4 linked regions of the Homo sapiens genome follow. The protein of the gene in region 2 binds, or shares a complex with, the protein of the main gene of each other region. Each region holds a gene or a part of one and is shown on either strand. Other genes may lie near its edges. The genes, in order: TRAPPC9, TRAPPC8, TRAPPC12 and TRAPPC11.

What was found.
Region 1: TRAPPC8 (region 2) and TRAPPC9 share a complex: the UniProt entries of both Homo sapiens proteins name them as parts of the multisubunit TRAPP (transport protein particle) complex.
Region 3: TRAPPC8 (region 2) and TRAPPC12 share a complex: the UniProt entries of both Homo sapiens proteins name them as parts of the multisubunit TRAPP (transport protein particle) complex.
Region 4: TRAPPC8 (region 2) and TRAPPC11 share a complex: the UniProt entries of both Homo sapiens proteins name them as parts of the multisubunit TRAPP (transport protein particle) complex.

The regions. Positions count from the first base shown.
Region 1 is NC_000008.11:140,370,513-140,377,769, reverse strand, and holds part of TRAPPC9 (trafficking protein particle complex subunit 9), read left to right. Parts: intron 1-6,589; coding exon 6,590-6,806; intron 6,807-7,257. UniProt on the Homo sapiens protein: Functions as an activator of NF-kappa-B through increased phosphorylation of the IKK complex. May function in neuronal cells differentiation. May play a role in vesicular transport from endoplasmic reticulum to Golgi.
Region 2 is NC_000018.10:31,933,099-31,940,355, forward strand, and holds part of TRAPPC8 (trafficking protein particle complex subunit 8), read right to left. Parts: intron 3,354-7,257; exon of another isoform or gene 3,323-3,353; coding exon of another isoform or gene 3,241-3,322; intron 1-3,240. UniProt on the Homo sapiens protein: Plays a role in endoplasmic reticulum to Golgi apparatus trafficking at a very early stage. Maintains together with TBC1D14 the cycling pool of ATG9 required for initiation of autophagy. Involved in collagen secretion.
Region 3 is NC_000002.12:3,459,515-3,466,771, reverse strand, and holds part of TRAPPC12 (trafficking protein particle complex subunit 12), read right to left. Parts: exon of another isoform or gene 7,234-7,257; intron 6,510-7,233; coding exon 6,436-6,509; intron 6,129-6,435; coding exon of another isoform or gene 6,069-6,128; exon of another isoform or gene 4,174-6,068; intron 1,176-4,173; coding exon 1,077-1,175; intron 519-1,076; exon of another isoform or gene 1-518. UniProt on the Homo sapiens protein: Component of the TRAPP complex, which is involved in endoplasmic reticulum to Golgi apparatus trafficking at a very early stage.
Region 4 is NC_000004.12:183,683,048-183,690,304, reverse strand, and holds part of TRAPPC11 (trafficking protein particle complex subunit 11), read right to left. Parts: intron 6,331-7,257; coding exon 6,251-6,330; intron 6,161-6,250; coding exon 6,082-6,160; intron 6,001-6,081; coding exon 5,946-6,000; intron 5,610-5,945; coding exon 5,464-5,609; intron 5,222-5,463; coding exon 5,160-5,221; intron 5,035-5,159; coding exon 4,902-5,034; intron 3,688-4,901; coding exon 3,557-3,687; intron 1-3,556. UniProt on the Homo sapiens protein: Involved in endoplasmic reticulum to Golgi apparatus trafficking at a very early stage.

The sequences.
Region 1 (7,257 bases), on a different chromosome or scaffold from region 2:
GGCATTAGTCTATTTCGGACAGGCAGGAGAGGAGTTTAGGAAAGGAGTGATGGGGGGTGGGGGACGTTTTAGCTGTGTATGGTCTTGTTTAATTGGCTTTTAATTTCAGGCTGCATGAGTTGTCATTGGAGGGACTAGATTTTATGGAGAACAGACTTAAAGAAACTCAGAACTTGGCTGGGTGCAGTGGCTCATGCCTGTAATCCCAGCACTTTGGGAGGCTGAGGCGGATCACCTGAGGTCAGGAGTTTGAGACCAGCTTGGCCAACATGACGAAACCCTGTCTCTACTAAAAATACAAAAAGTAGCCGGGTGTGGCGTCGGGCACCTGTAATCACAGCTCCTGAGGAGGCTGAGGCGGGAGAATTGTTTGAACCTGGGAGGCAGAGGTTGCAGTAAGCCGAGATTACGCCACTGCGCTCCAGCCTGGGCCACAAGGGTGAAATTCTGTCTCAAAAAAAGAGAAGAAAAAAAAAAGAAACTGAGAACTCTGGTATGGAAAGATGAATGTGGAGAAAAGCTGTAGTCAGAGTTCAAATCATCTTTAAAGTACACATGAACTCGCTTGCTCACTAAACCCAAAGATGGTAAAATAGGCAGTATTTCTTGAAGCCAAAGGAGTGGGTTTTTCAGGTTATCCAAGAATGAATCAAAGGCTGGAACTGAGGTGATCAGGGGTCAAGCGCGGACTTTGCTTGGCCATCTCTTTTGGATGGTGCACTCAACAAGGGCACTGACTGTTTACAAAGTGTCCTTCCTCTAGCATGTGGTGGGTATACCTGGTAGTCTAGGAACCTTCCAGGTATCTGTCCAAGGCATAGGGCACAGCATCCCTGTTTCAGCCATCTCTCCATCCATCTTCTTCCCAACACTGTGATTTTTTTTTTTTTTTTTTTGAGATGGAGCCTCGCTCTTGTTGTGCTGAAGTGCAGTGGCGCGATCTCGGTTCACTGCTAACTTCCACCTCCCAGGTTCAAGTGATTCTCCTGCCTCAGCCTCCTGAGTAGCTGGGACTATAGGCACCCACCATCACGCCCGGCTAATTTTTATATTTTTAGTTGAGATGGGGTTTCACTATGTTGGCCAGGCTGGTCTCGAACTCCTGACCTCAGGTAATCTGCCTGCCTTAGCCTCCCAAAGTGCTGAGATTATCGGCATGAGCCACGTTGCCTGGCCTCAACACTGTGATTCTTTTTTTTTTTTTTTTTTTTTTTTTAGATGGAGTCTTGCTCTGTGCCCAGGCTAGAGTGCAGTGGCGCAATCCCGGCTCACTGCAAGTTCCGTCTCCCAAGTTCACGCCATTCTCCTGCCTCAGCCTCCCAAGTAGCTGGGACTACAGGTGCCTGCCACCACGCCTGGCTAATTTTTTGTATTTTTAGTAGAGACGGGGTTTCACTGTGTTGGCCAGGATGATCCTGATCTCCTGACCTTGTGATCTGCCCACCTCATCCTCCCAAAGTGCTAGGATTACAGGCGTGAGCCACCGCGCCCGGCCTCCAACACTGTGATTCTTTATGGACCTATCTCCTCTACTACTTCATGAAGTTTTGAGGGACCAGGTCTTATTGAAGTTTTTGTTTTGTTTTGCTTTGTTTTCATTCTTACTTTTGAATGATTAAAACTGAAAATGGATCCAATTACTTTAGACAGATGCTTTATAAAGGAAAATCCTTGGTGCATGCCTCATACCCCTACTCCGGGATATGAGAAAGTAGGTTATGTTTTTAACAAACTTTTTTGATAGACATATATGGAAAGTTTGTATAATTTTGAAGATGTATTTTCTCTCCATGTAATTATGGCTGGAAATAGCCGGAGAGAGGAGCAGAGTGTGTTTTCAAACCTGGGAATGTGTGGGGCCTGCTGTTTCCCATCCGGCATTCTCCCACGGTCATCATTTAGTTGAGTGCGGCCACCAGGCTGCCCCTACACATCTGTCACTGACTTGTTCTTCTGATCACTGCAAGTGCCCACGTTTGAGAAGGCTGATGAGGGTTAAGGCATTTTCTAGAGCATCAGTGGCTGGTTAACTTGGGGTTAGAACTTGTGGTGTCAAAGGCATTAACTAACAGTGATATTTCTGTTTCTTGAACACTCACTGAGAGTTTTAGGCTTATGCTCAGTGTTTGCATTATTTCATTGAGTCTTTTTGACAATCGTAATTAGATTTGATGATCCCTGTTTCTTAGGGATATGCAGATGTGGCCCTGGAACTCAGGACTTTACAGCTCCAGGCTGTATTCCTCCCTCTCCATCCTGCCAGAGACAAGTCCTGTGTCTGGAGTTTCCCTCTGATCTTGTCACTTTATTTCTTATTAACAGAATAAAGCAGGTCTAAACTTACTTTCTACTTGGAAATGGAATGGTGAGTTAATATTTGGATCCCTCAGAGTCTGCCTTGTGAATAAAGCTCCTTGTCTTGAGTAGTCTTGGAGCCACTTTCGTTGGAACCTCACATAAACATCTGGGCCCTGAACTTGGACTTCGTGACTGTGCAGCCTATTGAAAGATTAGAACAAAGATGTGCTGATTAATATGCCCTAAAAGAGCAGCAGGTTGGAAATGAGTTTGGGGATTTCATCTCATTTCAAGATTTCCTGAGGATCTTGGCCTAGCTTTGCCAGGGACCATTTTGTACTCCCCGGCTCCTTGTGCCATAGGTGCCTGTGTCGACCAAACATGGCTTTGTCCTGAGGCTCTCTGGGCTCATGGCTTCTCAGTCAATTGTCTGCCTAGTGCCCAAAAGCAGTTGCGCTCGAGCTTTTCCCATTAAGGAACCGTTTTAGGGCTTTAAAGTGATGTCAATTCCATTTGCAATGTAGTATTTATCATTTGACTTCTTATTACACTGAAATGATAAGAGGAATGAAGTAATATTATTACTGATCATAGTATTATTTACAACCTTTCATCTTAGATAGGTTCCATGAAAGAATCAATGGGAGTTCTAACGCATTGGTGGCCAAGGCATGTGACCTTCCCCGGCTGTCACCTTTATTTTAGATGGTGACCTCTTTACAGGCACTGGCTAAGATCAGTATTCGTCTTCTCTGCCCCCTTCTCTGCCCCAACATCTTTGATCATGTCTGGCACATAGTGGGTGCAGCTGAAGGTCTGGGCATTTCCAGATTTGTGATGAAGGCGTTAAGTACCCCCACCTCTTCTTTTTCTTTTTTTCTTTTCTTTTCTTTTTTTTTTTGACATGGAGTTTCACTCTTGTTGCCCAGGCTGGAGTGTAATGGCACAATCTTGGCTCACTGCAACCTCCGCCTCCTGGGTTCAAGCAATTCTTCTGCTTCAGCCTCTCAAGTAGCTGGGATTACAGGTATGCACCACCACGCCTGGCTAATTTTGTATTTTTTAGTAGAGACGGGGTTTCTCCATGTTGGTCAGGCTGGTCTCGAACTCCCAACCTCAGGTGATCTGCCTGCCTCGGCCTCCCAAAGTGCTGGGATTACAGGTGTGCGCCACTGCGCCCGGCCAACCCCTGCCTCCTCTTTACAGTCCTCTTCCACCCCGTCCCTGGCTGCTGTCCTCCAGCACTGGGGCTTCTGTTCGCTGCTGTACTGCACACTCCTGGAAAGGGACAGGCCATGTCCTACTCAAATTTGAATATTCACGGACCATAGACCTAGACAACAACTTCTAGATGAAAACATAGGATATCTTTGTGACCTCGGGCAAAGATTTTTCTCAGATGAGGACATAGAAGGCACTAACCATAGAAGAAAAAGCTGATAGATTGAGCTACATCACAGAGAAATGCTTTTGCTTATGAACACTCCCTTAGGGAAATAAATCGGCAACAGACCGGGAGGAAATATTTGCAAAACACATATAACTAAGGACTTGCATTCAGAATATATACAGAACTCGTACGACTCAGTAATAAAACAAACGATCTAATTTTAAAAACTGTCAGAAGATTTGAACAAGCGCTTCACAAAGGAAGATATACCAGTGGCCAGTGATCATATGAAAAAGGTTCAACATCATTAGTTTTCAGGGAAATGGAAGTTAAAGCCACCACAACGTCTAAAATAAAAAAGACTGATATCCTCATATGCTGGTGAGCAGGTGATATCCTCATATGCTGGTGAGCAGGTGATATCCTCATATGCTGGTGAGCAGGTGGAGCAACAGGGATTCTCACACATCGTCGGCGTCGGCATGACCTTTCACTGTAGGAAAAGTGGGGCTGGCAGAGATCCGATATGTAGGTAAATTGTGTGGGAGACACAGAGAAAGGACATTATGGAGTCCAGCATGGTTAGGAGAATTTAGGGAAAGAAGCAGCAGCTTCCCGCTGAAGGGCATGAGGACCAGCTTCTTGGAGAGGGTGGCATTGGAACCGAGTGTCCAAAGGGAGAGCCAGATGTGGCTGTGGAGGCATTGCAGGAGCAGAGAGCCTGTGTGCCCCGGCGGCGTCACCTAGTACAGCCTGCCTCATACGCTTCCACCCATGATTCTATGTCAAAGAGTATTTCATTGGACTTAGAGCAGCTATTTTGTTTATTTTTTCATTGATTTATTGTCATCCTCCCCACTGATTCTAAGCCAGGGGACTAGCCTGTCATTAGCATGGAGGCCCCCAGGGGTAGGAGTCTTAGCTTGTTTTGCTCACTGCTGTATCCTCTGCCACAAGAGTGGCTGGCACCAGAGTAGGGGTTCAGTAAATATGTGTTGACAGAATGAGAAAACAAATGAGTTAAAGTTGTTCAGTCTGGTGAGGTCATAGGTAGGCAGTGGGGCCTCGAATTTCCAGAGCAGGTTGGGGCTGAGGAGGGCCTGGCATGCCCGTGAAGGCATTTGGGCTCCATTTTACAGTCCTGAAGGGGTCTAGTGGTTTCAAGATGGGGATTGTCTTAGTCCGGTGAGGCTGCTGTCACAAAATGCCACAGACTGGGTGGCTGATAAACAATAGAAATGTATTGTGCACAGTTCTAGAGGCTAGAAGTCCATGATCCAGGTGCCAGCATGTTTGGTGTCTGGGGAGGGCCCACTTGCTTGTTCATAGACCGCCGTCTTTTCTCTGTGTTCTCACATGGTGCAACAGGTGAGCTAGCTCTTTAGGGTCTCTTCTTATAAGGGCACTAATTCCATTTGTGAGTGCTTCACCCCCTGACCCAATCACTTTTTAAAGTCCCCACCTCCTAATTCCATCACCTTGGGGGCTAGGCTTTCAACATGTGAATTTTGGGGAGGCACAAACATTCAAACCGTGGCTCGGGTGATGGGCTCTGAGCCATGTCTCAGGAACCTAAGTCTGGCAGGGGTGTGTGGACAGGTGAAGGAAGGTCGAGAGGTGGTAGGAAGACAATGCCGATTCCTCTTCCAGATGAGGGCTGACGAGGGCCCCATCGAGGCCATGGCAGTGAGCGCGGAGGAGAGGGGATGGAGGGAGGGTTTGGAGGCCCAAGTTGGAAGGGCGTTCAAGCTAAGGCTCTGTACTCACAGAAACATCAGGGAAACATTCATCGTCCAGGGCAGAGGAGGGAGAGAAGCGCTTCCTTAACAGTGCTCCTGGAGCAGCAGAGTGGGCTCTGCCTTCCTTCTTCTCTGAAGGCGCTGTGCAGTGGGCAGGGCCCAGGCCCAGAGTCAGGTCTTGTCCCTGATACTTCTTGGCTGTGTGATTTTGCACAGGTGATTAATGTGTCCCTGAGCTGTTAATGTCCTTATTTGCCAGCTCACAGGATGCTTGTATTGAGTAAATCAGGTACGTTAAGTCTGCTGCCATACAGTAGGTGCTGAAGAAACAGAAGTTGTTGGCTGGGCGTGGTGGCTCACACCTGTAATCCCAGCACTTTGGGAGACTGAGGCAGGCAGATCACCTGAGGTCAGGAGTTCGAGACCAGCCTGGTTAACATGGTGAAATCCCGTCTCTACTGAAAGTACAAAAATTAGCCAGCATGGGGGTGGGTGCTTGTAATCTCAGCTACACTGGAGGATGAGGCAGGAGAATCTCTTGAACCCGGGAGGTGGAGGTTGCAGTGAGCCAAGATCGTACCACTGCACTCCAGCCTGAGTGACAGAGTGAGACTCCGTCTCAAAAAAAAAAGAAAAGAAACAGAAGTTATGATTGCTACACTACAGGGTTGTTGGGAGGATTCAGTTGGGTCTTGGATGAAAGAAAACTTTTGTAAACCCTGAAGTCTTAAGTCTGATATCAGTGGTATTGTTAATAATTCATTACCCAGTTACATGATTCTGTGTCTTCTTGTGTTTTAAGAATTTTTGTGTTTGATGAGAGACCTTGATAAAATCCTGTTGTGTAGATGAACTCTTGTTCCTTTTCTTTTCTTTTGTGAAGGAACTTAAAGTAGAGGTCTCAGATTTGTAGCAGGTACCTTTGTAGCAGAGAATCTGGGCTTTATCAGCAGGAAGATGGGCTGCACCTGCAGCTGTGGCTGGGGAAGGTCTGAAGCCACCTGGGGCCTGCGCCATGCGCTGCTCACCAGGCTTTCCCTCTCCTTGATTCTCCTCGATTCTCCTCAGGTCTTTGTTTTATGAAGAGACATTTTTAATGTGTGCTTCTTTTTTCACTTATACGTTTCTTTCAAAAGCTTTTTACTTTCTCTCTGTGCTTCAGCTTTCTGAGGAAGAGAAAATTCAGCGCTACAGCATCCTCTCCGAGCTCTATGAGCTGATCGGCTTCCATCGCAAGTCTGCGTTCTTCAAGCGCGTGGCCGCCATGCAGTGCGTGGCCCCAAGCATCGCGGAGCCTGGGTGGAGGGCCTGCTACAAACTCCTCCTGGAAACGCTGCCCGGCTACAGTCTGTCGCTGGATCCCAAAGATTTCAGCAGAGGTACTGGAGTCCCCTTGCTGGCGCTAAGGTGTTGCTTTCTGTCTGATGGTCACATGCTGTTTCAGCCCCTGCCCTGAGTGGCAGACATCGTGGTTGGTGCTGGTGGCTCCAGAATGACTAGATCCCTGCCCTGGAGTTGGGTGCCTGCTGTAATCCGATTATAGGAAAAAGTACTGGTGCTTTGCCTTGGGGCTCGGATTCTTGAATCTTTATCAGTGGGAGTCAGAAATTGCCTTTGAGTTCATTGGCATGGTGTGTCATCATCAATCAAACAGTGGAAGTACCTAATGAATTTTACTCATGAGATTTAGTTAGTTTAGCACAAATCAATGAACCCAGAATAAATATCCTTGGGTATATGTGTATACCTGAGCTATGCATTCAGCAGTAAATTCTTATTCTGAAATATTAATGCAGGGTAATATGTATTAAAAATAAAGCTATCAATCTA
Region 2 (7,257 bases):
AGACCATCCTGGCTAACACGGTGAAACCCTGTCTCTACTAAAAACATAAAAAATTAGCCGGGCGTGGTGGTGGGCACCTATAGTCCCAGCTACTTGGGAGGCTGAAGCAGGAGAATGGTGTGAACCCGGCGGGCGGAGCTGGCAGTGAGCTGAGATCGTGCCACTGCACTCCAGCCTGGGCAACAGAGCGAGACTCCGTCTCAAAAAAAAAAAAAAAAAAAAGGAGTCCATTATAATGATTGAGGACCCAGCTTTTGGAGTTGGACCTTGATTTAAATCCCAACCCATTACTTATCAACTGGGTTACCCTGAACAACTTAACCCTTCTGTGCTTCAAATTCTTCATCTGCACATGTGATTACTATCTACTTCACGGGATCATTTTAGTGATTTAGGTGAACTATTGTTAGACAGTAATTGCAAAGCACTGAGCACCATGCTCAACAATACATAATGAAGGCGGTATAGCAGCAGCAGCAGATACAACATCACCTATTTCACCTGCACCATGGGTTATTATCACATACAAATAAGAGGCAACTTTGGGAAAGTGGTCTGGGTACCTACAAATAAAGAATGACACATTCTTCTCAATGGAAAATGCCTTATACCAAAATCAAGGCCTGCGTATATTTTAAATAAAGTTATATGCATACAAACTTTTCTACATTTCCTATGTGTTCTATTGATTTCTAACATTTTTTACTAAAAAAAAAGACTCAAAAACGTTTTTAAAATACTGTATGTGGTACAAATGTGTATTTATATTGTAAACATAAATATAGATACACAAAAAGTATACATGCAGCCGGGCATGGTGTCTCACTGTTGTAATCCCAGCACTTTTGGGAGGCTGAAGCGGGCGGAACACTTGAGGTCAGGAGTTCGAGACCAGCCTGGCCAACAAGGTGAAACCCCCATCTCTACTAAAATACAAAAATTAGCCAGGCATGGTGGCAAGCGCCTGTATTCCCAGCTATTTGGAAGGCTGAGGCAAGAGAATCACTTGAAACCAGGAGGCAGAAGTTGCAGTGAGCCAAGATTGCGCCACTGCACTCCAGCCTGGGCGACAGAGACTCCCTTTCAAAAAAAAAAAATGGTACATGCAAATTCTATGATAGTGGTTGCCTATAAAAGGAAGGAAAGAAAAGAGACTAAGATAAGGTAGAAAGAAAACTTCAACCTGGGAAGTCTGTCCTATAACGTTTGATTTTTTTTTTAAAAGAAAAGATAAAAAGCAAATATGATGGAGGGTTAATATTTGTTAGTTCTGGGTAGTGGGGAGGTGGATGTTTCTTGTATTATCTGCATTCTTCTATAACTGTTATGTTTTCTAACTTAAATAAACATACCAGCCTCTCTCCCTAAACTTCCCAGTCAGTCTAATTATGCAGCAGAGAAACAAACAAACAAACAAAAAAACTATGGTGCATTTCTGATATCCTTAGGAACATATTGGACAAGTATTTTCCTTAAAGTTGCTTCATAGCTGGGCGCAGTGGCTCACACCTGTAATCCCAGCACTTTGGTAGGTCAAGGCGGGCGGATCACCAGAGGTCAGGAGTTCAAGACCAGCCTGGCCAACGTGGTGAAACCCCGTCTCTACTAAAAATACAAAATTAGCCGGGCATGGTGGCACGTGCCTGTAATCCCAGCTACTCTGGAGGCTGAGGCAGGAGAATCGCTTGAACCCGGGAGGCAGAGGTTGCACTGAGCCGAGACCACACCATTGTACTCCAGCCTGGGCAATGAGAGCTGAGATCACACTACTGCACTCCAGCCTGGGCAATGAGAGCTGAGATCACACTACTGCACTCCAGCCTGCTGGGCAACAGAGAGAGGCTCCGTCTCATAAATAAATAAATAAATAAATAAATAAATAAATAAATAAAATGTATTTTGAAAATAATGACATCTTTTATGCTTTTACCCAGCATATAAAACTGTACAAAGAAAACAGGCTAGGCCGGGCGTGATGGCTCATGCCTGTAATCCCAACACTTTGAGAGGCCTTGGCGGGCGGATCACCTGAGGTTGGGAGTTCAAAACCAGCCTGACCAACATAGAGAAACCCCGTCTCTACTAAAAATACAAAATTAGCCAGGCGTGGTGGCGCATGCCTGTAATCCCAGCTACCAGGGAGGCTGAGGCAGAATTGCTTGAACCTTGGAAGTGGAGGTTGCAGTGAGCCGAGATTGCGCCACTGCACTCCAGCCTGGGCAACAAGAGCGAAACTCCACCTCAAAAACAAACAAACAAACAAACCAAAAAAAAAACAGGCTTTATAAATAAGTCTGCAATTACAGGCTGGAGCCGCTGCACCCAGTGGCTCAAGCCAGCTACTCGGCAGGCTGAGGCAGAACTGCTTGAACCTGGGAGGTGGAGGTTGCGGTGAGCCAAGATCGTGCCATTGCACTCCAGCCTGGGCAACAAGAGCGAAACTCCATCTTAAAAAAAAAAAAAAAAAAAAGCAGGCTTTATGAACAAGCCTGCGATTATAGGCTTGAGCCACTGGACCCACTGCACCCAGTGAGTGCCTCAAGCCTGTAATCTCAGCATTTTAGGAGGCTAAAGCAGGAGGATCACTTGCACCCAGGAATTCAAGACCAGCCTGGACAACAGAGGGAGAGAGACCCCATTTCTTTTTTTTTTTTTGAGACAGAGTCTCGCTCCGTCACCCAGGCTGGAGTGCAATTGCATGATTTCAACTCACTGCAACCTCCGCCTCCCAGGTTCAAGCAATTCCCCTGCCTCAGCCTCCCGAGTAGCTGGGATTACAGGCGCCCGCCACCACACCCGGCTAATTTTTTGTGTTTTTTTAGTAGAGACGAGGTTTCGCCATGTTGGCCACGCCGGTCTCAAACTCTTGACCTCATGATCCACCCACCTCGGCCTCCCAAAGTGCTGGGATTACAGGCGTGAGCCACCACACCTGGCACAAGACCCCATCTCTATAAAAAAATTTTTTTTAATTAGCTGGGTGTGATGGCACACACCTGTGTGCTACTCAGGAGGCTAAGGTAGGAGGATCTTGTATACTTTATACATATAAAACTTTACCATATTAAAAAACCCTCTGGCTGGGTGTAGTGGCTCAAGCCTGTAATCTAGGCACTTTGGGAGGCCGAGGCTGGCAGATCGCTTGAGTCCAAGAGTTCAAGAACAGCCTGGGAAACACAGCAAAACCCCATCTCTACAAAAAAAATTTTTTTTTTAATTAGCCAAATGTGTGATGCAAACCTGTAATCCCAGCTACCCAGGAGGCCAATGTGGAATGATCGCTTGAGCCCAGGAGGTCGAGGCTGCAGTGAACCATGATCATGCCCCCTGTATCCAGCCTAGGTGACAAAGTGAGACCCTGTCTCGAAAAATTAATAAAACAAAATGAAAACAAATTTCGAAAAACTGACTTGAATTTTATTCAGAGTTTGGTACTTCCACACCTTGGAGATTAATTACTTCATTATATAAACATGGTAGTTAAGATTGATGAAATATTTCCAACTAAAAGAAATTTAAGAGGCCAGACGCAGTGGCTCATGCCTGTAATCCAGCACTTTGGGAGGCCGAAGGCGGGTGGATCACTTGAGGTCGGGAGTTCGAGACTAGCCTGGCCAACATAGCAAAACCCTGTCTCTACTAACAACACGAAAATTAGCCAGGAGTGGTGGCCCGTGCCTGTAATGCCAGCTACTTAGGAGGCTGAGGCAGGAGAATTGCTTGAACCTGGGAGGCGGAGGTTGCAGTGAGCTAAGATTGTGCGACGGCACTGCAGTCTGGGTGACAGAGCAAGACTCCGTCTTTAAAAAAAAAAAAAAAAAAAAAAAAAAGGAGCCAGGCGCGGTGGCTCACGCCTGTAATCCCAACACTTTGGGAGGCCAAGGCGGGTGGATCACGAGGTCAGGAGATCAAGACCATCCTGGCTAACATGGTGAAATCCCGTCTCTACTAAAAAAACACAAAAAATTAGCCAGGCGTGGTGGTGGGCGCCTATAGTCCCAGCTACTCAGGAGTCTGAGGCAGGAGAATGGAGTGAACCCAGGAGGCGGAGCTTGCAGTGAGCTGAGACGCACCACTGCACTCCAGCCTGGGTGACAGAGCGAGACTCCGTCTCAAAAAATAAAAATAAAGGAAAAGGAAAGAAATTTAAGGCCGGTCGCAGTGGCTCGCGCCTGTAATCAAAGCACTTTGGGAATCCAAAGCGGGTAAATTGCTTGAGTCCATGAGTTTGAGACCGGCTGGGCAGCATGGCAAAACCCCATTTCTACAAAAACTACAAAAATTAGCCAGGTGTGGTGGTACATGCCCATAACCCCAGCTACTGGTGAGGCTGATGAGGGAGGATATTTTGAGCCAGAAGGTTGAGGCTATAGTGAGCCACGGAGTTCAAGACCAGCCTGGGCAACAGAGTGAGGCTCTGTCTCAAAAAAAAAACTGCTCACTTCAGCAGCACATATACTAAAATTGGAATGATACAGAGAAGATTAGCATAGCTCCTGCACAAGGATCACACAATGTTTTTCAAGAATTCAAAAAGAAAAGAAAAAGAAATTTAAGAAAACTGGAGATATTAAATAGCCTTCAAAAGTTATATCCTAGTCTACTTTTTTTTGTTGTTTTTTTGAGACAGAGTCTCGCTCTGTCACCCAGGCTGGAGTACAGTGGCAAAATCTTGGCTCACTGCAACCTTCACCTCTCGAGTTCAAGTGATTCTCCTGCCTCAGCCTCCCGAGCAGCTGGGACTACAAGCGCCCACCACCACACCAGGCTAATTTTGTACTTTCAGTAGAGATGGGGTTTCGCCACGTTAGCCACGCTGGTCTCAAACTCCTGACCTCAGGTTATCATCCAACTCAGCCTCCCAAAGTGCTGAGATTACAGGCCTAAGACACTGCACCTGGCCTACTTTTTAATCCCTTTAGTAACCTTAATTTCAAAATAAAATAATATATAACCCACATACTTCCAAGTTAGTGTTTAAGTGAAATTTTCTTAAAACTTACAGAACATCTAAATGATATATTGCAACATTGTTTAGAACTATCAAAGAACTATCACTAAGCAAAAACAAGGCTTAATTTTAATTTTTTGTTGTTTGCTTGATTAATTAATATTAATACCACGACTCTTTGAAACATGGCCAGTGGAAATTCTTTGAGTATTAGGATCTCAAAATTTGTGTCAAACAATGACTACATTAACTCTCAAACATACATCAAGCATAACAATCACAGAAAATACATATAATAAATTTAATTATATATTTTAATATAATTTAATTTTAACATAATTTAATACTCTTCAGGTTTTAAAATGTCTCTAAGGAACCTAAAATGGCTCTCCGTTGTGTAATACATCAAGTCTAAACTGTATTTTGAAGGCCCTACACACAAATAGTACTCAAATCTCTTCTACCAACCCTCTCTTTGGTATAGCTTTAAACCAAGTGTTTTCTACTAAAATCTAAAAATAAGTCTCCTGACAATACTTGGCACTGTACTTGACACTCCTTGAAAACTCAGCAGTCAAGGCAAAGTTCTACCCTAAGTAAAGGCATACCTACAGGCCAGAAATTGAGTCTTCTTTTTTAACATATTTTTTCTCCCTCTAAGGAAATGTTAGCTGGTTTTAGTCAGTTGTATTCTTAAATTACATTGCCTGAAATTATATTCTCATGCCTCACTTGCTAAAGAAAAGCTGTTGCCTAGCTCAGTGGCTCATGCCTGTAATCCCAGCACTTTGGGAGGCCAAGGCGGGCAGATCATGAGGTCAAGAGATAGAGACAATCCTGGCCAACATGGTGAAACCCCATCTCTACCAAAAATAGAAAAATTAGCTGAGCATGGTGGCACGAGCCTGTAGTCCCAGCTACTCGGGAGGCTGAGGCAGGAGAATCACTTGAACCCGGGAGGCGGAGCTTGCAGTGAGCCAAGATCTATCTCGCCGCTGCACTCCAGCCTGGTGACAGAGCGAGACTCCGTCTCAAAAAAAAAAAAAAAAAAAAAAGCTGTCTTTGAAGAATCCCCACACTTGAAACAAAAAGTAGCTGTTCTAGGTGGTAAAGAATTCTAAAATGTATTTATACCAGCAAAAAACTAAAACCAAGAAAAATTAAGTCCTCTTTGCCAAATTTCTAATGCTACTATCATAGTCCATGTTCATCTTGAAATGTAAAACTTGTATCTACTTATATCTATCCTTATAAACCACACAACTCACTAATCTCCAAAACTTTCAACTCATTAATGTCCAAATGTTTCAGACCCTCAAGAATCTACTCACATTTACCATTAGACATAAAATCGCAAATCCCTTTCCTAGAATTCAAGGTCCTCCCTTTATCTAAGCATCCTCTTACTACTCTGTACCCCAGTAAGAGTTTCCTCCCTGTTTCCCAACCATTCAGTCATAATTTAGACCTTTTGCCCATACCATTATAACCTCATACCACTCCTTCATAGGGAATGACTGCCCTCTTGCTTTCTACCAACTGTCTACCTGTCCACTAACGTCCAACTCATTATACTCCTTCACTAGGCTGGACGCAGTGGTCCGAGACGAGCCTGGGCAACAAGGAGAAACCCCATCTCTACAAAAAATTTAAAAATTAGCCAGGCATGATGGCATGTGCCTGTAGTCCCAGCTACTTGGGAGGCTGAGACAAGAGGATAGCTAGAACCTGGGAAGTTGAGGCTGCAGTGGGTGAGGGAGCTATGGTGATACAATTGCACTCCAGCCCTCCCAGCGTGGGTAACAGAGCAAGACCTTGTCTCAAAACAAAAAACAAACAAACAAAAAAACTCCTTCCCTAATCTTCCCCAGTCTCCTGAAGGAAATCAGAAGTGTACTGACAATGAGCCGCTATCACAGCACTGTCCAATACAGTAGGCAACAGCTGCATATGGCTACTGAGTACTTGAAATGTGACTAGTACAAATTGAGATGTTAAGTATAAAAGGCACACCAAATTTCAAAGACTAAGCAATAAAAAAGAATGTAAAATATCTCATGAATATTTTTCACATTGATTACACATTGAAATAGTAACATTTTGGAAATACTGAGTTAAATAAAATACAGTATTAAAACTAATTTCGGCCGGGCACGGTGGCTCACGCCTGTAATCCCAGCACTTTGGGAGGCGGAGGCGGGCGGACCACGAGGTCAGGAGTTCGAGACCAGCCTGGCCAACATGGTGAAACCCTGTCTCTACTAAAAATACAAAAATAAGCCGTGAGCGCCTGTAATCCCAGCTAC
Region 3 (7,257 bases), on a different chromosome or scaffold from region 2:
TGCCTGCCTGGGGTTATTCAGTGACAGTCATCTGCTGTGCCCCACCACAGGGGCCCATGGACAGGGCTGTCCTCCAACACTATCTGGTGTCCCATGTGGACTTCCACAAGCAGGCGGCGTGCAGGAGATGGTGTGTGCACGTGTGCCTACGTGTGTCAGTGCATGTGTGAGCAACTGTGTGGAGGGGGAGAGGACCAGCTGTTAGCTGAGAGTGCAGGCCCTGAGTTCACAGAGGCCCTGTTCAAATTCTAGCTTCCCCATTATCTATGTGGCCTCCTGTAGCTGGATATCACTTAACCAGGAGACCTCAGTTTGCTGATCTGTAAAACAAGCCAGTCACACCGTGAGGTGAAATGCTCAGCGCAGGGCCTGGCTCACCGTGAGTGGGTGCCTGTGGAAGGTCTGTGCTGCTTCTCCCCGCTCAGCCATCCCTTGCTCGTGCCTCCTTTCCCTGGCCCAGGTTTGGGACGTGACCTAAGACTGAGGGTGAGAGGGGCAGAAGCTGCCCTGTGCTCCGCCTGCAAGGGTGGGATTGACAGGGATGTGGGCGGGACTCATCACTCCCTGTGACCTCCCTGTCACCAAATATTCCAGGAAAATGCATTCCAGCTTCAAGGACATTCTTAGCAAAGGGGGTCCTGCCGAGCTTTGTGCATTACTGAGACCACTGTTCAGTCTGGACTTTGTCTGTCCAGCAAACATGATTCAAGGGTTATTTCAGGCAAAATATCAGCGAGTGACTATTACGGGATAAGCTGAACTGAGATTCCTCACGGTTTAGTCAGTGCTTTCGTAACTGCAGCAGGACAATGTCTAGAGTAACTCATTTCAGTGTGGCTGTGATGACACTTTCTGTGGGTTCACATTTAGCAACAGGCACAAAAGCCAGCAGGGCCTCCCACAGTCAAACCAGAACTCCTGGAAAGAACCCACCCTTTTCATGGTCACATACATTTGAATTGGAATATTTTCTGCAGTCTTTCTTATATTAAAATGATTAAAAGCAAACAGTCGCCCATCTGAGCAAAGAACTATCATAAGGCCTTTCTGGCTCATGTCTGACCGTGCACAGGTACCTGCAGGGAAATCCGGCCGATGCCGCTGAGCAGCTGGGGCTCTTGCTCTGGGTAATACTTGATAACCGAATGATACGCCTCCACGGCCAGCACATAATCCTGTGGGAAGAAAAACCCAACGTACTTTAGAGCTGAGAACAGCACTGTGGGTTTCACACGTGTAGAAGAGCACAAGTGTATACAGACGCGGTGTAGAGAGAGGACACGCTGACGCAGGAGCTGGCGGGGAAGCTGGAAACCAGCACGCGGTGCTCGGCTGCCAGGGGGCGGCTGCTCTCCCGACTGCAGTCGGGCCGGGATTCTGAGCTGTGCGCATCGCAACGGCGGGGTCCTGCCTGTCACCGGGGGCTGTCGCGGTTTAGTTGGGCCTGAGGGTCTGTTTCCTGCTTCCATCTTCTAAACAGCGATTCATATTTCACTTGGACTGCACCTAACTCTCTTTCCTGACAAAGTTATCATGTGAGTTGGCGAACGCTGTCTCATCTCCATCCTCCAAATACATAGGCCAAATTTTTAAAGTGTCTCTTAAACGTTTTCTATGCTAGAAATTAAGGTCAAACCTTTACATGTAAAGAAAAACCACAAAACAAGTTTGCTGAGGCTGAGTATGTGATGGAGGTCGGCCTTGCAGAGTGCGTGAATGTCGTGTGCTCCGTGCGGCACGCATGAGACCTTCCCGTTTTAGAGACAGCTACGGGGGAACATGTAGGAGCGCTGTGCCAGCTGCCGTGCTCAGGGCATCTGGTTTCTGCCAAAGGCCTTTGCTGGATTCCTCATCGCTCTGCCCTGCCTGTGGTGGTCTGGCCCGTGGCCCCTCCTCAAGGGCAAGGCCTGGCAGCACAGTCTCACTGTCCATCTGCCCACTCATGCCGGCCCATCACAGCCACTTGCTGGACGCTGAGCGGACCCAGTCACCCTTTCCAGGTGTGAGCAACGCGGTCTCCGTGCAGGAAGGTCTTGCCAAAGTCACGTGGGACACAGTGGTAGCTTGTCTCAAGTCCCCAGCAAACCCGGGCTCTCTCCAGGATGACAGTGATCGCCGCATTTATTGAGCGAGCTGTGTGCGGCAGGCCCTGCACTAAATGCTCCCCTGCATTCTCGCACTTAGCTATAAGCACGCGGTCAGCAGTAACTATGGCCACCAATGGTGTTTTTCTTCTTACTTACTCATCGTATAATCCCAGAGGTACTTTTATTTCTTTATTCTTCTACATGTTCCATTTCCTCCAAACTGGGACTGGAGTTACTGGCTTGCTAATTGGGATGTTACAAAGAAAGACAGACAAGTACAATTCCAGTTTGGTAGGAAGGAAAAAACAAAAAAAACCCAAAACGACTCTCTCCAGTCTAGTACCTTCGAGTACAGCTCATTAAAACTAATTTTATTCAAGGCCTGACGCCCATGACGAGCCAGACAGCACATGCCTCGGTCTCCTTTCCCACGCCTTCCTGCTGCCTGTCTCTGCTGTCTAGCTGTGCGAGTGCGAGCATGTGTGTGTAAGCGTGTGTGAGCATTGTGTATGAGTGTGAGCGTGTGTGTGAGCATGTGTGTGTGTGGACGTGTGTGTGTGAGCTCCCTCACACAGGGGAGGGCTTTGTGACCTGGCATGGGGGCACTCGGGGCGGCTGAGGTTGCAGCTGGGACGGACATGGCACCCCAGATGCAGCTGTGGGGCCTGCACACCCTGGGCTGGCCCTGATCTGAGAAGTTTAGGGGAGCAGCCCTGCTTTCCAACAGAGGCTGCACTCACCAGCTTGCACCAGCTCGGGGAAAAGTAGCAGCTGCCCCCCTAGGCTTCTCTGGGGAAGGAAGTAGGCTTCCGAGCACCCATCATGCTGGGCAATGTCTGTTCTAATCCCACACATGTCCCACCTTTGGTTTCAAGTAAACAAAAGGCAGGCTTTGACTTTCTTGTTATCAGCCCGGCAGTGTCACTGGGTCATTCCAGTGCCCCACTCACGCCACTGATGCTCCAGGCTGAGGCGGCCACCACAGAGAGCGCAGGGTGGGGGCGTGGTGGGGGCGCAGCACTCACTGCTAGTGGGCGATGCCGTGGCCAGCCGCATCACCCTAACCGCTCTTTCAGTGCTCAGGGCCAGGGGTCAGTGTTTCTGAAGATAATCTAGTATGACAAAAGACAGGTTTTTACGAAACCAAGCCATGCTCTTTGATGGGAAGTTACTTTAGGCATGGCTCTTCCCAAAGAGCACGTGCACAGGCCTGGGAGCCGTGTGAGAGGAAGCTGGATTCCAGGCCGGGGGCAGGCGCGGCAGAGAAGGGATCTCGGGGGCCCCTGCACCCGCCGGCAGCCACTCCCACCAGCTCAGCAACAGTAGCGCTCGCCAGTCCCTCAGGTGTGAACATGACACGTGTCTGTGTGTCCGGGCTGCAGTTGGGGGAAGAATTCTGGGGCACTTCAGGGGGCCCATCGTCAATACAGCAGATGAGGATTTGGGATTGTGTTACAAAGTTTCCTTAGGTTGACGGTTACTTAATGACTTTATTTACTGAAGAGGAAACAGCCCTTCACAGGTAAAATGGCCAAAAGAAGCTCCTCAAGAGAGCTTAACCTACTCTCCAGATCCTGTGGATTTGGCTTTTGTAAAGGACATGAATGACTTACTTCCAGGGACAAGTCTATTTTAGCTCAATCTTCACCATTTCTTTTCAGCAGCCACACGTGTTTACAGGCCGTGAAACTAGATTTACAACCATTCTGCAACCAGCAAGGACTTCTGCAGTCTAATTTCAGCAAGACGGAAGGTAGCTGATGCAGCTGCGTGCTCCTTTCCATCATGTGCGGAGCCACGGCGGGTTCTGATGTGCATACTGGCGAGCTGTGGGGACACCAGGAGGGAAGTGGCCTCCCAGGGGCACCCGGGGGAGGGGGGGCCCAAGCCACCTAAGGTGGCAGGCACCTGCATCCATATGGTCTGCCAGTGCAGGTGCCCTAAGGCTACAGTGAGGCCTAAGGAGAGGAAGAAGTATTTAAAAAGTGAAGATAGTGACATTTTCAATGCTTTATAATACATGCCACTGTGCATTATAGCATATCATGCAGATTTATCCAGGGCTAAAACGTATGAATACATTTCATTGCTAAGAAGTTAAATTGGTATTTATTTCACTGTAATAAAAATGTTATTCAAGATAATTAAATGGCTGATTAAATAACTCATTGTTAGCCCATATACATAATTTAATTAACAGGATACCCCATATTATTAAGATCACACACTGTTGCAATACCCTGTATGCTCACTAGATGGCAAGAGAGTGCATATGCTTGGCTTGGCTTTAATTGCAACATTTTTGCCTCCTTTTTTTAACTCATGAAAATGAAAGCTTAAGCTGAACTTTCAAATTAAATCATGTCCATTGTAAAAGTATTTTTGAAATGCAATAATATGTTCTGTACTGAGTCCCAGCAATACAGGAAGAAGACTCACATTCGGAGCCTGGTGGTGGTGTTACTACCACAGTGCCACAAAGAAAAGCCCATTCCGTCGTTTTCTATTAATGTGTCTTAAAATGCAAATGAAAGCCCGCCAGTGGAACAGGGAACTTTCCTCCCTGGGGAGTTTTAGCCCCATGATTAGTGAAACGTCAGTCCTGTGAATTTATAATTGATTCTTCATGTCTTTGCATAAGAATGTTCCGGCAAGCTGGTGACTTTCAGGTGACGCTGACAATGCCCTCAGCAGGTGGAGGCCTACTGCGGACCGCCCAGACCGCCAGGTGGGGGTGTCAGGGCTGGCCACAGGCAGCACAGGGAGAATGGCCTGTTTTGGGAGGCAGAGGGGTCAGGCCGGGTGCTTCGGGGTCACCTGGTTGCTGGCCAAGCCTTGGGTGGTGAAGAGGCCACCAGGGCAGGGGAGCAGGAGGGCCTACTTTTCACTCCCACTCAGAGGTGGGCAAGCCCTGCTGCAGAAGCCAGAGGGGGCTGGAGAAGGGAAGGGGGCGGGTGGGAGGAGGGTGAGGACCAGAACAAAGCACCTGTGCGGGCCACCTGACCTCAGTGGGACTATCTCAGGAGTGGCAGCGGAAGAAAAACCTGCTCTGAGCAAAACCACAGAACTTGAAAACCGTAATTTCCTTTATCCAGTGTGTTGAAGGAGAGGAGAGAGCTGTGTGAATGTCAGAGCTGGGAGGGATTTCAGAGATCTCAGATCTATGCCCTTATTTTAAGGAGGAGGCTGAGGCTTGCAGTAGTGCGAGGCTGCGTCACGGTCGCTTGCTACCGAGGATGAACAGGACGCCGAGTCTCCTTGTGCGTCCAGCCTGACGTAGACGCAGAAGCGCAAAGGCAGCGGCCCCGCACTGGGCACTGGGGCTGCGCTAAAGCCGGGGTGCGGGCTGCACGTCTTCCTGATGGAATGCCTGAGCCACTGATGGCTGTGAATCTATACCCGCACCCAGCCTGCTCGGAGCAGTGCCCGGGGTCACAGTCACCTCTGGGGATGCTGCAGGGTCCGTGCATAAAGCAGGGCTGCCACTTCAGGGTTCATGACAGAGCCCGTGAGCACAGTTCTCCGCTGGTAAATTGCCTGCTCTGCCTTGCTGAAAATCAAGCTCAGGAATGACCTTGGCCCCATGAAAGCCGCATGGGTGTGGGAGTTAAGGTCGCTGTCTTCGAACAGCCCAGGAGGTGTTACGAGCACTGCTCCGGAGCGCCTGCTGCTAGCTGATTCCTGCAGTAGCTCTCAGTACGCACAGCTGGCTGCAGGGACACTAGCTCCACACAGGGCACCCTGATGCCCAGTGTGGGAGGTGAGCCAGGTGTGGGGTGCGTTCCAAACAAAGAGAGGAGCCAAAAAACACCGTTGCACAGGCTGGCGAGAGCCAGGAGACACGGAAAAACAGATGACAGCCTCAGTTCAGCTCCTTGATTTCTAAGCTGTTTCCCTGCGGGCTGAGAGCTCTGGGGTGACGTCCTAAGAAGGTCTTGTGGGGAAGCCTGTCTTCAGGTGTTGTAAGCATCAATCATAAAATCAAAACCATGAGGTGAAAAAAACACCCTCCACGAAGATAGGGAGAACAAAGGACACCTTCTGGGGATGGAGTTCAGAGAAAAATGGGGGAAAATGAACAATACTTTTAATTAAATCATTTAGACCCACATTTCAATAATGAAATCTGATCATCTAAATTCTACATTCTGTTGAAATTTCTTGCAGTAGAAATAAAGTACATATAGCCCCATAATGTGTCACTGGGCTCCCTGTTAAGCCAGTACTTAGCTGGCTTCTCTGCACGGCCGGTCCCTGCCAGCATCTATTATACCAGCGGCTCCCTCGCGGCTCCCACTGACCCCGCTCTTCCAGATCACATGGCAGCCCTGCTTGGCCACCCACGTACCTTCATCAGGAGCAGACAGTTTGCCATGGAGTACATCACCCGGCCCAGACGTGACCTCCACAGCCGGATAGAGGCTACAAGGTAAGAGCAGCCTGTAAGTGCACAAATAAATTCGAGGCTCTTTCTAGCCCTCAATTACTGGGTCCTGTGAATTCTAATTTAACTTTAAAAGATCCCTCTTGTTAACACCACTGGATTTCGGCCTGGAATGCTGAATATGCTGCAGGCTGCACTGAGGCAGAAAATACAGCACTCGCATTGGGACCAGAGGTGGCTTTGGGAAGAGACCCTCGGCATCAGAGAACCAGGAGGGTGGCTGCTCAGCATCAGCCCAGACACAAGGCCAAATGGTCCGACCGGGGGCCCCGTTTCCAAAGCCAGAACCCTGAGAAAAGGAGCAAAGCTGACAGAAACGACGACATTGCCTGCAGCTCGACAAGGCTGGGAGGGCCACTGGCCAGGGTGGCCGCCAGCCTCTCGCAGTTGACCTATGGGAGGCCACCCGGAGGGCCCCACCCATGCCCAGCCATGAGGCCTCCCCTGCCTCCCGACCATGGGCTGGTGCAGACGCCGGTTCCCCCAAGGAGTGCTACACCGTGTTCCAGAACTCAAGTGGCTGGCACATTCCGCTGGGGACTCGGCACTCCCCTGCAGCTGGCTTCCTTCCCTAGCACCTGCTGCCACACGGTGGCTGACCGCGACCCTGAGCCTGGCCCGTCCCTCCCTGCTCTCCCCTGCACATTATTTAGTTAGCAGCCATCCCTCCACTGATTTCAAACCTTCAGGGCCCATCTCTTCTAGTAGTTTCCAAACTGGCTTTGT
Region 4 (7,257 bases), on a different chromosome or scaffold from region 2:
CACAGTTCAAGTATTATACTTTCCCGCCAATTTTCATTTCTATTCCATGCTTATAAAAACTACTCTACTTTTTTTTTTCTTATGGTTTATATTGTGAATTTCTTTTCTTTTAAGACGGAGTCTCACTCCATCGCCCACTAGAAATGCAATTTCAGCTCACTACAACCTCCGCCTCTCAGGTTCAAGCAATTCTCATGCCTCAGCCTCCCAAGTAGCTGAGACTACAGGCACCCGCCACCACGCTCAGCTAATTTTTGGGTTTTTAGTAGAGATGGGGTTTCACCATGTTGGCCAGGCTGGTCTTGAACTCCTGACCTCCAGTGATCCGCCCACCTTGGCCTCCCAAAGTGCTGGGATTACAGGCGTGAGCCACTGCGCCCCGCCTGTATCTTAAATTTCAAATAAGATATATTCAGAATATAATCTAAATTTTAAAACTAATTGCTTTATATTCCATTTTAGCGTTATTAGTTTTTAATTATAGTAGCTTATATTTTTTGTTGAAAAAAAAAAGGAAAGAAAAGAAATGAAATAGTAGGCTATTAAGGGAAAAGTAAAATAAGAGTCCCCATACTTCACTTGAGCCCAGGAGTTTGAGGCTGAGATGAGTTATGATCACATCACTGCACTCCAGCCTGGGCAACAAAGTATCTCTTTAAAAAAAAAAAAAAAAGAGTCCTTGTGTTGACCCTCTAATTTCATAATGAACAAAACAAACAAACAAAAAAAACCCCTGCCCTTCTGCCCTTGTGGAGCTTAGATTCCAGTAAGGAAAAACAGGTAATTTACCAAATAATCACACAGACAACGGTGAAACCACAGTGTGATTAGTACTACCAAGGCTATGAGAGCCTGGCTAAGTGATTCAGTCATGTAAGTCAGGGGAGGCTTCCCTGAAGAAGTGATGCTTTTAAGTGAGAAAAGGCAAGAAGGAATGAAGTAGTCGGAGAGGAGGGCAAACCAATTCAAGCAGAGGAAAGGGCATGTACAAAACCTCCTGTCCTTCATTCATCCTATCCCCACTTTTCAGCCGCTATATGCACTTGGCAATCCAGATTTATCTATTTTTAAATGCCTCTTATATCCCTGAATCTCCATTCCCAACACCAGCAACTCAATTCCGATACTTGTACTTTTGTACATGGATTAATATAAAGAGCCTCTAATTGGCTTCCATGATATTATTTCTATTTTGCTACTAGAATAAAGTTTCTTAAAACTTTAAGAATAAATTGCATGCTCTTGCTTTAAAATTCTCAAACTGGGCCAGGCATGATGGCTCACACCTGTAATCCCAGCACTTTGGGAGGCTGAGGTGGGTGGGCTCCTTGAGCCCAGCAGTTCAAGACCAGCCTGAGCAACACTCCATCTCTATAAAAAAATACAAAAATTAGCTGGGCATGGTGGCATGTGCCTGTAGTCCCAGCTACTCAGAGGAGGCTGAGGTGGGAGGATCACTTGAGCCTGGGAGACTAAGGCTGCAGTAACTCAAGATGGTGCCACTGCACTCCAGCCTGGGAGATAGAGTGCAGCCTTGTCTCAAAACACACACAAACACACACACACACACGCACACACACTAAAATAAAATTCTCAAACGGATTAGAGGAAATCCCTGGGCAAGGGTCTGAAGTTGAATAGAACATACTGATCTTCAGGTGACCCAGCTTCATCTAATCATTTCTATTACAGAGATATTTCTCTTTTCTTATGAATCAAATCCTAATAAAACAGATAACGTTTCTTTATCACCATCCAATAAATAGAACACAGACAAAAGAACAAATAAATCTTCAAAGACATCTGTTTACTAGCCTATCCCCGCTTAACTCTTCCAGGTTCCTTTAAGCCACCTGGCCTTATTTCCCACCACCCAGCATTATAAACCCTCTGTTCTAGTGAGGTGTGACTTTCCCAGAAACACAGATTGTGCGCTTCTGTTTCCATGCAGTGTTTTCTCATTGCCAAACATGTTCTCCCCCTCCATCTTTTCGACCTATCGTAATTTCATCTTCATTCTTGGAACTCCCTCCCTTTTTTCTGGCATGCCTACTACAGCTGTCCCTCTTTCTAGCCTACACTACGTAATTTAGTCTTCATTACCTATTTGGGCAATCTTTGATTCTGTCCTGGCCCTTGTCCCCAAAATGCCTAAATTTTAATGAGGTCGACATATGCTATACTCAGATTCAGCATGTTAAGAATATCGTAACTCTCAATAAATGCTTGTTGGTGAAAGACTCACTATACTTTCTGGGTAATCAAAAGATGATTATCTACTAAGTGAGTTTATAATAGAGTTGTAATGAAGTACTTGACTATATACTATATAATGCTTCAAATATATTCAAATGCAGGAAATATGATCCCAATTCTGCAAGAAAAAAAGTTGCTTATATATTCATGTGCAGAAAATGTCTAGGTTATTCAAGAAGTTAACGTAGAGGGTGTGTGGGAGAATGGAGAAGAAAGAAGACACACATTTACTTTTCACATTATATCCATCTATTCCATTTCAATTTTTTAAATGTCAAACATAAATTAGTTCCATAATCATAAACTAATAACATTAACTAATAATGTTGAAGTAAAATATAAACCAAATGTTTTTTTAATTCTATTCATTCTGAATATACCTTATTTGGAATTCAAGTATACATTATAAAAAAAATTTAAGGCCAGATGTGATGCCTCACACCTGTAATCCTAGCACTTTGGGAGGCTGAGGTTGGTGGATCACTGGAGCCCAGGAGTTCAAGACCAGCTTGGGCAACACAGCAAAACCCTGTCTCTACAAAAAATACAAAAGTTAGCCAGACGTGGTGGCAGGTGCCTGTAGTTCCAGCTACTTAGGGGGCTAAGGTGGGAGTCCAAAAGGTTGAGGCTACAGTGAGCTATGATTGCACCAATGCACTCTAGCCTGGGCAACAGAGCGAGACCCCGTCTCAAAAAAGACAGAAAAAAAAAGTATATATATACTATATGTGTACATATATATATATATACACACACACACAGAGAATTCTTAAGACTTTATAAACATGGAGTGAAAACAAAAATTGGAGTAAGCAAAGTGTAAACTTGAATTGCTAGAAGTTTAGAAACATATATATATATATATTTTTTGACACAGATCTTGCTCTGTCACCAGGCTGGAGTGCAGTGGCACGATCTCAGCTCACTGCAACCTCCATCTCCCGAGTTCAAGTGATTCTCCTGCCTCAGCCTCCCAAGTAGCTGGGACTACAGGCACGTGCCACCACACCCAGCAGATTTTTTTGTATTTTTAGTAGAGACGGGGTTTCACCATGTTGGCCAGGCTGGTCTCGATCTCTTGACCTTGTGATCTGCCTGCCTCGGCCTCCCAAAGTGCTGAGATTACAGGCGTGAGCCACTGTGCCCGGCCCTGGAGATATATTTTTGAATAGACCTTACCAAAGTTCATTTGTTACTATGAAACCATTAAGACATAAAATTCACTAAGCTCATTTTATCTAGTTTAACATAAGCTACAATAAGATAAACGTGGTAAAAACACATGACATGGCATCATTACCTGATTATTAAAGCTGACACAGAGCTTGGAAAACCTAATGGGATGTGGACAATCAGCCTTCAGATAAATATCAAACTGAACAGGAACATCAACATGAAAACTTGGGGCATGAAACTTGGCTTTGCACTGCACTAGAAATAAAACAAAAGGGCTGTGTTATGCACAACCAGATACCCACGACCCACACACATCCTGTTAACCAAATTGATTCTTCAGAAAGACACATCTGCACTGACCATTCTTACTGACTTCTGCACTTAAGGCACTTCAAGAGACAAATGAGCTAACTTTTTATTATAAAAATAAAATTTAGGCTGAGCACAGTGGCTCACGCCTGTAATCCCAACACTTGGGGAGGCCAAGCCAGGCGGATCACTTGAGGTCAGGAGTTTGAGACCAGCCTGGCCAACACGGTGAAACCTTATCTATACTAAAAATACAAAAATTAGCCGGGCATGGTGGTGTGCACCTATAATCCCAGCTACTAGGGAGGCTGAGGCACAAGAATCACTTGAACCCAGGAGGTGGAGGTTGTGGTAAACGGAGGTCGCAGCATTGCCCTCCAGCCTAGGTGACAGAGCAAGGCTCTATCTCAAAAAGAATAATAAATAGGCCAGGCATGGTAGCTCGTGCCTGTAATCCCAGCACTTTGGGAGGCTCAGGCGGGTGCATCACCTAAGGTCAGAAGTTCAAGACCAGCCTGGCCAACATGGTGACACCCCATCTCTGCTAAAAATACAAAAATTAGCTAGGCATGGTAGTACACGCCCATAAGTAATCTCAGCTAGTCAGGAGGCTGAGGGAGGAGAATCGCTTGAACCTGGGAGGAAGAGGTTGCAGTGAGCTGAGATCATGCCACTGCACTCCAGCCTGGGTGGCAGAGTGAGACCCTGTCTCGAAAAAGAAAAATAAAATAAATGAACAAATAAATAATATAAAATAAAATTTAAATAAATTACAGCTTCAAAACCATCTTTAATTTTAAAAACACAGCTGCTCCTGAAATGTAGATGACAAGATTTTAAATGAAAAAGAACCATTTTATTATTATTTCAAAATACCTACCTAGACAGTAAAGCACAACCTTTTAAATAACTGTCAGGTGTTTCTAATAACACCTGAACTACAAATGAGCAAAGTGTATTTTAAAACATAAGTCAAGTATTTAAGATCCTAACTACCTTTGTAAGTCACTGAGGGGACACAAAAAAAAATCAGTTTATCTATAACATGATTATACTTTGAAAACTCTTTCTTGACTTTTATATTTATTATTCTGCACCTATTCATTTTGTAGAAATAAGACAATTTCTCTGAAATAGTACTGTAGATGTTAGCTACCTACCAAATGGCACAAAGTCCTGTACTCCTATTGTGAAAATATTGCTGCCAGCCAGAGAAATTCGGTCTGCCCACAGCTTCTGAGCAGTTTTCACAGCTAAGATATCACAGTCGGGTTCTGGATCAGGACTTTCATTCTGCATCAACACAGAGTTAACATCCATTCAACTAGTTGAATAAAAACCACTACTTGGATTAGTTGATATAGATATAAGTACACATATTCCTAATAACACACTCTATATAAACAATTCCAACCTACCATTAAAACATTTATGAGGTTCTTTTCTATCCGAGACTTCTGGTCATCTTTCAGAGTTGAAGCTAGTATGAAGAAAGAAGGAAAAACATTTTAAGTACTTATAATTAAGTCTACTACCCCCATTTATTGTTTTAGAAACTTGATATAATAATAAATACCTCTTTAAGATGACTAAGCACAGTGATTTGCACATAGTAAAGTATACTAATTATCTGGGACTAAATTATTCTTTAAATTTTAAAAAGCTTAAAGATGCTAAATAATTTTATGTATCAAGAATTTTACTCAAAAAACATCAGGTTACCTCTACCAAGGAGTTCTAGGGAGTAAGTAATGTAATCCTTTAATTGGGCCATGAGGTAGGAGCACTTCAGAGCTGTAGTTAATACAGAAGTGAGCAGAGTCCACCATCCTTCACTCCGATAATCACACATCACATAATCCAGCAACCTCAAAGAAGACAAAATGTAATACTGAACCGGCTTCACAAGAAAGGGTTCGAAGAGTTCATGGAGAAAAAAATACTTTCCTCATTTTATGTAAGTATAGAAAAATCTTACTGAGATGGTTGAACAGGTATTCTCATATTTAGCTAAACGTGAGATTTCTTAAAACACTGAAAAAGATTGTGCCATCAATAGCACTTGAAAAAAACATTACAGAAATGGAGTTTAACAACAATAGAAATAAATATGAAAATACGAACTCCTTCAACACTGATTTCTATTTCAGTTTCACTTCAGATAATCCAAATACTTGTAAAAGTAAATAGTGAACAGGACTCACTTCAAAGCTTTGGTATAATCCTTTGCGTAATAATATTCCTCTCCCATCTGAACCACTATAAAGGAAAAAAAGATTTATGTATGTAACTTAAAGTCATTCAAAGTTGCATGCAATGGTGACGTTTGTGGATACATACTTAGGTGACTTTTCATTCGCGGGCACTTATACTTCTTGAACTGTGCAACAGCATTGCTCAGAAGAGTTATGATTATCTCCTATTAGAAAAAGTAGAGTGTGAAACATTTCAATACAAATATTTTTCTTAAATAGTGTAAAAAATAGTTTATATTGGACACAAAACTTACAGAGTGAACAACATTTCTCTCCTTCAGCTGAATGGCAAGAATTCCCACCTTTTCTTTTTCAGGATCAGAAAGATCAAAACCTGCGTAAGATGAGACACAACTCATTTTAGACAGCTCATTTAATATAAATCTTCATATGAACGTTGTATGTGTACACTCCTTGAAACCTTTATTTAATATAATCATTTCAGACTCTTCAACATTCTAGAATCGTAAAGGTGCTAAGAGGCAGCTTTATTAACATGGAAACTTCCGTGTTCTGTTCTGATGGGAACATTATTGAGCTCAATGTTCTTCTACCTACTGGAATCAACGATCTGAAAAGCAATGTCAATATCATCCTCTATAGAGGATACACTTGCTGGAGATAATCATTTCCTTTTTTTCTTTTTTTGAGACGGGATCTCACTCTGTTGCCCAGGCTGGAGTGCAGCGGTACAATCACAGCTCACTGCGCATCAACCTCCTAGGCTCAAGCGATCATCCCATCTCAGCCTCCCAAGTAGCTGGGACTACAGGCACATGCCACTATGTGTGGCTAATTTTTGTATTTTTTTGTAGAGATGGGTTCTCACTATGTTGCCCAGGCTGGTCTCAAACTCCTGGCCTCAAGCAATCCTCCCACCTTGGCCTCCCAAAGCGCTGGGATTACAGGCATGAGCCACCTCGCCTAGCCAGTAATTTAACAGTTATAGTTCAATTGCTTGAATTAAATTACGTATAAAGTATTAAAAAATATGCAGAGAAATTGTTTTTAAGGTAATATGAGTTAATGCTGTTTTAAAATGTCAAATCAATTGTTAAAAGTTAACTGGAATTAAAATATTTAAATAAGACAACAGTGGCATGTGTCATTTAAAACAACAGATGTCCAAATGTTGTATTTTTTTTTTTTTTTTGAGATGAGGTCTCACTATGCTGCCCAGGCTGGAGTGCAGTGGCTGTTCACAGGTGTGATCCTTCCACCTCAGTCTCCCAAGTAGCTGGGACTACAGGCATGTGCCACC